Linked DNA regions of Homo sapiens: region 2 is linked to region 1. The links come from fine-mapping of genetic effects on gene expression. A gene starts in region 1. The other region holds a variant in brackets. All regions are shown on one strand. Distances are between the middles of the regions.

The links. PIP is the estimated chance that this variant, and not a neighbour inherited with it, causes the effect.
Region 2: its variant is fine-mapped to the expression of KLC1 in lung (TOPMed, PIP above 0.99).

The regions. Positions count from the first base shown.
Region 1 is chr14:103,627,462-103,630,354 of GRCh38, reverse strand. KLC1 (kinesin light chain 1) reads right to left here and starts at 1,144. Exons shown (of 17, transcript NM_001394837.1): 1 at 861-1,144. LOC105370688 (a long non-coding RNA gene) reads left to right here and starts at 1,212. Exons shown (of 3, transcript XR_944248.2): 1 at 1,212-1,323; 2 at 2,430-2,616; 3 at 2,815-2,853. RefSeq lists silencers at 397-576, 617-666, 757-876, 927-1,286, 1,377-1,576 and an enhancer at 2,017-2,106.
Region 2 is chr14:103,715,745-103,718,637 of GRCh38, reverse strand. It overlaps ZFYVE21 (zinc finger FYVE-type containing 21), which reads right to left and starts at 2,828. Exons shown (of 7, transcript NM_024071.4): 1 at 2,659-2,828. The coding sequence starts at 2,796. RefSeq lists an enhancer at 1-464 and silencers at 2,015-2,094, 2,155-2,224, 2,325-2,404, 2,595-2,893. The variant C/T (reference allele first, on the strand shown) is at 1,272.

The sequences.
Region 1 (2,893 bases):
ACAGGCAGCAACAATTCTAATACAAATATACCTAGAAATGACCTACAAATGTTAAGTTATAAAACCATCCACTCCATCACGCATTAATTTCACTACTTTTACGCTTTATTTTAATTTTCTTAAGGAAAAGGGTACACCCAATTTTACATGGAAAAAGCATTCCAGGACGGAGGCTGCTTCAAGTTTAGTTGGAGCAACGCCAGCCTAGGTGAACAGGGTCGCCTGAAACGTTTCGCATCTGGTTACTGAAAATAAGGGGTCGCCAAGGAGGCAAAGCGGAGCCAGCTCTCGGGAGGGACCCGGCCCCCCGCCGCCCGCGAGAATGACAGGCGCGTCCGCTCAGGGCGGTGCCGGGAGAGGCGGGGGTGGAAGGAAGAGGAGGAATCGGACAAAGCCAGCCCCGCCGGGCCTCCGGCCTCCCCGCCCGCCGCGATCCCGGGGTCAGCCACCTCCCCTGTCGCGGGTTCCCGGGGTCCACAGCTGTCCCCGGGAACGGCCGCCGCCGCCCGCAGCAGGGCCAAGCCGGGGATGCGGGGCCAGGGCGGGGCCCTGGGCAGGGCCGGGGACCGGAACCTGCAGTGGGACGCGGATGGGGAGGACGCGCGGCGCCGGGAGCCGGGGCTGGCAAAAGGGCCGGGGACAAGAACCCGACCTGAACCTGGAAGGGGTCGCGGACCGGCCGGGGCGGTGAACTGGGGCGGGTACCGGGGTGGGAACGGAGAGGGGCCGGGACCCAAACCGGGAAGGAGGCCTGGATGGGGACAGAGTTACGGCCGGGGCGGGTCCGAAGAGGAGCGGGACAGGGACGGGGCGGAGGATGAGGAGGGGGCCGCGGTCCGGGGCGCACGCCGGGGACTCACCGCCTTGCTCCTGAGGGCCGCGCTCTCTCGCGCTGTCAGCACCTGGAGCGCCGCCGGGCGCGCGCGCGGAGCAGCGACTGTGCGCCGAGCCCGCCTCGGCTGTGTGAGGCACGGCGCAGCAGTCACCAGCTAGGGGCGCCGGAGCTACCGCCCCGCAGCATCCTCGGCCACCCACGCGCTGTCCCCTTGGCCGCCGAGCACAGCCCCGCGGCTCCTCGCACCAGCAGCCCAGCCGACCCAGCCAGTCCCGCTCGGCCGCCTGCGCCGCTCCCGCCGCCGAAAATGGCGTCTCAGTGTTGCTCCCCCCGGCGCCCCGCCTCGCCCCGCCCCACAATGCCGCGCGCCGGCATGACGTCATCGCCCCTCGCCCCGCCCGGGGCTGGGGAAACTGAGGCTGGGTGGCTCCCCGCAAGCGCTCGGCGAGCTGGGGACTGGAGGGGCGAGAAAGTTGTTTGGGTATCAGGTGGGCGGTCACAGGGAGGAGGGTGACGGTGCAGGACCCAGCGGGCCTCCCGGTTGTAACGCGGACGGGGGTGGGGCGCTCGGGGCAGGGCGCGGCTCGCGGGGTGGGCGGCCAGGCCCTGGCCTCTCCGACTCCGCAGCCGCGATGACCGAGCGCTTCGGCAGCTTCCCTTCCAGCCGGACTGTGGGCCCTACCAGAATGCGGCCGGGGACGGTGCAGGCCCGGCCGCAGCCGCCACCACTGGGCTCCCGCCCCACCCCACTCCCAGGCCCGCGAGCTTCATGCGCTCGTTTCGGTCCCCCCAAAACCCAGCTAGGAGGCCTTCGGGAGGCCCCGGAATCAGATGATCCCGGCCAGGCCTTTCTCCCTCCTCCAGGAAAACCGACAGCCTTTGGTCGAGACCCTGACCTCTAACCCTGCGCCCTCCCCTTCTCATTATTCCCTCTCCTCGGGGCTTTTGGACCCTCGTATCTGTACGAGGAAACTTTCCAGGCGCTCCCCCTCGACACAAACTGCGCCTCAGACGGGCAAAGGGGAAGGGCCGGGGTGTAGACTGTGAGGGTGGGAGACAACCCCCCTCTGTCCCCACGCAGCCACCGGCGCATCTCCCTGGCTGCAGGGCCTCGACCTCCAGCCCGGCCTGAAGGGCAGCGGAGCGCGCCTGGGTCAAGTCCTGCGGCTTCGCCGGCTCCGCAGGCCTGACTCAGCAGCCAGCCGGGAGGGCATGCTGATTCAATGGGCGAGGCTCCGCTCGCTGCTGCCAGCGGCTTGGGAAAAACCCTCCCAGTGCCTGCAGACGTCCCAAGTGCGGGGCCCGGAGGCATCATTTAACCTGGAGGGGTTCCTGGGCCAGTCCCCCAGCCCCATCTTGTGAACTGCTGTTCCTTTCCGATGTTATCACCCAGCACCAGCAGCCCTTTGTGAACCCTGCAGTTAGGCCCCGCAGTCACCAGAGAAGCAAGTGCTCCTCGGTTTTTCCAGGGAGGTCTGGTTACTTTTATCTCATTTATAAAGACAAAGGGGGAGCTCCTAGGTAACACGGTAGGGTTGGCCCGGGGAGAGGCACTGAGTCAGGGTCAAACAAACTTTCTCCATACCACTTTCAGGTTAGTGATTTCAGCCAGACTGCAGCTTGGATGTCACTAAGTTCAGCCACTGGGCTGGGCACCGCCAAGCATCGACTGCTCATTCTTTCTGTGCCGCTGCGCCCAGTAACTGTCCCCTCTGCTCACCCACAACCCTAGCCAGAAACCTGGGATGCCTGCACCGCTCCCTTACGCCCTACTACAACAGGTGGAAAAGATTCTACTTCCTCAATATTTCTTTGAGTTAGGGTATCTTTGTCACCCTGACTGGAGGGCAGTGGCAATCAGCTCACCGTAACCTCGAACTCCTGGGCTCAAGAGATCCTCTTGCCTCAGCCTCCCAAGTAGCTAGGGACTACAGGTGTGCACCACCACTCCCAGCTAATGTTTTTTAAATTTTTTGCAGAGAGGAGATCTTGCTATGTTGCCCAGACTGATCTCGAACTCCTGGCCACAAGTGATCCTCCCAGCTGGCCTCCCAAAGT
Region 2 (2,893 bases), 88 kb before region 1:
TATTTGATGGCAGAGTCAGACAAGCCCCAGAGATCATCTGAAGCTTCCTTCACACCCCCAAAGCACCTCTATCCAAAGTGGTGTCGCACGAAGCTTTACACGCCGCCTCTGCCTCCCCTGCCCCACAGGTTCCTGAGGAGGCACAGACTGGAGAAACGATTCTCAACTGGTTCTGCGTCAGAGCCTTGAGAATCTGAGAGCTGCAGGCCACCTCTCGGAGAAAGGTGCATGTGTGCACATGCTCCCCAGGGGGTTTTGCAGCATTTTAAAGGGATAACCCTCATGGGCCCAAACTGATAAACCAGCCCGGTCAGGCAGCTGGTATTCGGGAGACGGGCACTGGGCTGGATTCAGACTCCCCTGGCTAAGAACAGAGCTGGAATGAAAATGGACCAACACGTTTACAGATATGACGATGATGCCGATCGGCACACGGCCACCAAGCCAAGGACAATGTTACCCACCTGCCAAGTTCTACCAAATTCTCCTCTCCCCATTCCAAACCACCTCAAATAAACCTATTTCCCACAACTGGTTATCTGCACATTTGAGTCACCTCCCGACAATCACCTTAGCGGCCCCAAGCACGCAGCCAGCACAGTGTAGCTCAGTGTCCCCTTCAGCATCACCACATGCCAGGCGACTGTTACCGTACATGTCCCCTCGAGCTATTGCACCTAAAGCTGGACTTTATTCCAAATCTTCCAGCCCTTACTGCCCCGTTCTAAGTTCCTCCAGAACACTGTCTTTGGTCGTTTCTGGCCTGTAAGACCATGCTCCAATACAATTCACAACGCAAAACTCAGAGACAAAGTCCATCTTATTAGAATGGTTTCTCTGTCCCCCAAGCCCACCCAATGCTAGGACCTCCCTCAGCTGCTCAGATCCCAGTTAATCATCCAAACATGGTGGGGGGCTCTGGAGGGGTATCCTGCCACCACGCCAGCGTGGGAATGAATCTTCTCTTCCACGAGGGGTGCCACCTTGACTCAAGTGTTTCAACTCCACTCAGTCGGAAGTCACCGCGGGACTGCCACACAGTGCCTCAGCAGAGGCCACAAAGAAAGGCAGGGAAAAATGCTAAACAATTCAGCTGATACCAGAAGGGCTCTGGAAGAGAGAATGAAGGAGGGGAACACAGTGGTTCACTATAAAACAGAACCGTAAGATCAGTGCATGTGTACAGCAGGGAGAAAGAAATTGTGCTTTGGTGGAAACCTCTGCCTCATCTTGGCCACACTTTCTCACGTGCTCCTTACGGTTCATACAGA[C/T]GTAGAGTATTTCTGTGCTATTAAGAGTTCGTTACACCATAAATACAATTTTCACGTGTCAACTTAAAAGTAAATTTTAAAAAAGATGAAGGAGGATGATTGGCGGAAAGTGTCTAAAAAGACTCCTCATGGTGGCGATACTGGGGAGAGGTGGGCAGCACTGGTCTCAACTCTCCAGGACACGCTCAGTGACCGGTGATGGCTCCGTACACTGTAGATGCCAGAGACACTTCCCCAGAGTCACTCGAATTCCGTCCTGTCCCCGAGGCTCTGTGGCCGCTCACCCCCCACCAGGCCTCCAACCAAGCTTCAATGAACCCAGTCAATTAGTGCTACTTTGACTTCTTGAACCTAGTTCCAACGTCTGCTTAGTTCTATCACTGAGGGAATTAAACGAATCTGTAACACGTGTTAAGTATGAAAGTCATATTACAAAAATTCTTTTTCTCCCCCAATTTTTTTTTTATCGTGGTAAAATCCACAGAACAGAAACTGGACACACCTGTTAGCGCACAGCCAGTGGGATTAAATGCACTCGGGGCCTTCCCAGTTGGCCAAGGGGCTGGTGTGAGGCAAAGGCACCTCCGATCAGGTCACAGGGAACCCCACGGGAGGCCCAGCGGATGGCCTGGCTCAGGGACCCCACGCCCACGCCCCAATGTCTGCAGGAGTGGCCTGGGCAACTCCTGCCGTGTCTGGGCCCATGGGAAACGGGTGCAAATCTGCGGTCTCCTTCAAACTGTCCAGTGGGCGACTGCGACCTCGCTTCCGAGGTGGAGGGTGGTATAGACGAAGGGAAACGGGGGGCAGCCTGGCCCGCAGACTGGGTCCTGGCCCTCCTTCCGAGCAGGAGGTGGCTTCGGAACCGGCCACCCGCCCGCGGCACCGACGCCTCCCCCGGTTCCCGGGAGGGACCCCTGCGGGGCCGCCAGCTCCAGCGCTTCCGCGGACAGCACGCGCCCTCCCCACCGAGCCTGCGAGGAAGGCGCTCCGCCTTCCACTTTCTCGGGAGCGAGCCCCAGCTCTCGGGACGCAGTCCACACGCGCTAGCCCAGCACGAACCGGCCTCGGGCAGGGCCGCACCCACCCCCGGGACCAGCCCGCGCCCCGCACCCCGCCTCCCGGCGCCCGCCCTGGACAGGTGCCTCCTGCCCTCCCGGGACCCCCGCACCGGGACACCGCGCGCCTCCCGCCCTCCCCGCGGGCGTAGGAGCCTGAGGCGGCGGCCCGGGGACGCGGCCAACCTGGGAGAGAGCGGGGGCGGGGGCCGGCTGGGGAAGGGGCCGCCCGGAGGCGGAGGGGTCGTCGCGGGAGCCTGGAAGCCCGCGGGGCCGGGCCGGGGCGGCGGGGCGGGTCGGAGGCGCTGGCCGGGGCGACGGCCACCCACCTCCTTGTCCGGGACCCACTGCGGCTCCTCCAGGCCGAACGGGCTTCCGAAGGCGCGGTGTTCGGGCACCATGCGCAGGCCGCTCGGGGAGCGCACCAGCTTCTTGGCGTCGCGGCGCGCGGACACCTCGGAGGACATGACGCCGCCTCAGCCTCTCGGCCAGCGGCCCCGCACCCGGCCCCTCGCCCAGCCCGGGGCACCGCCCGCCCCGCCCCGGTCCGCGCGCGGCTGACAG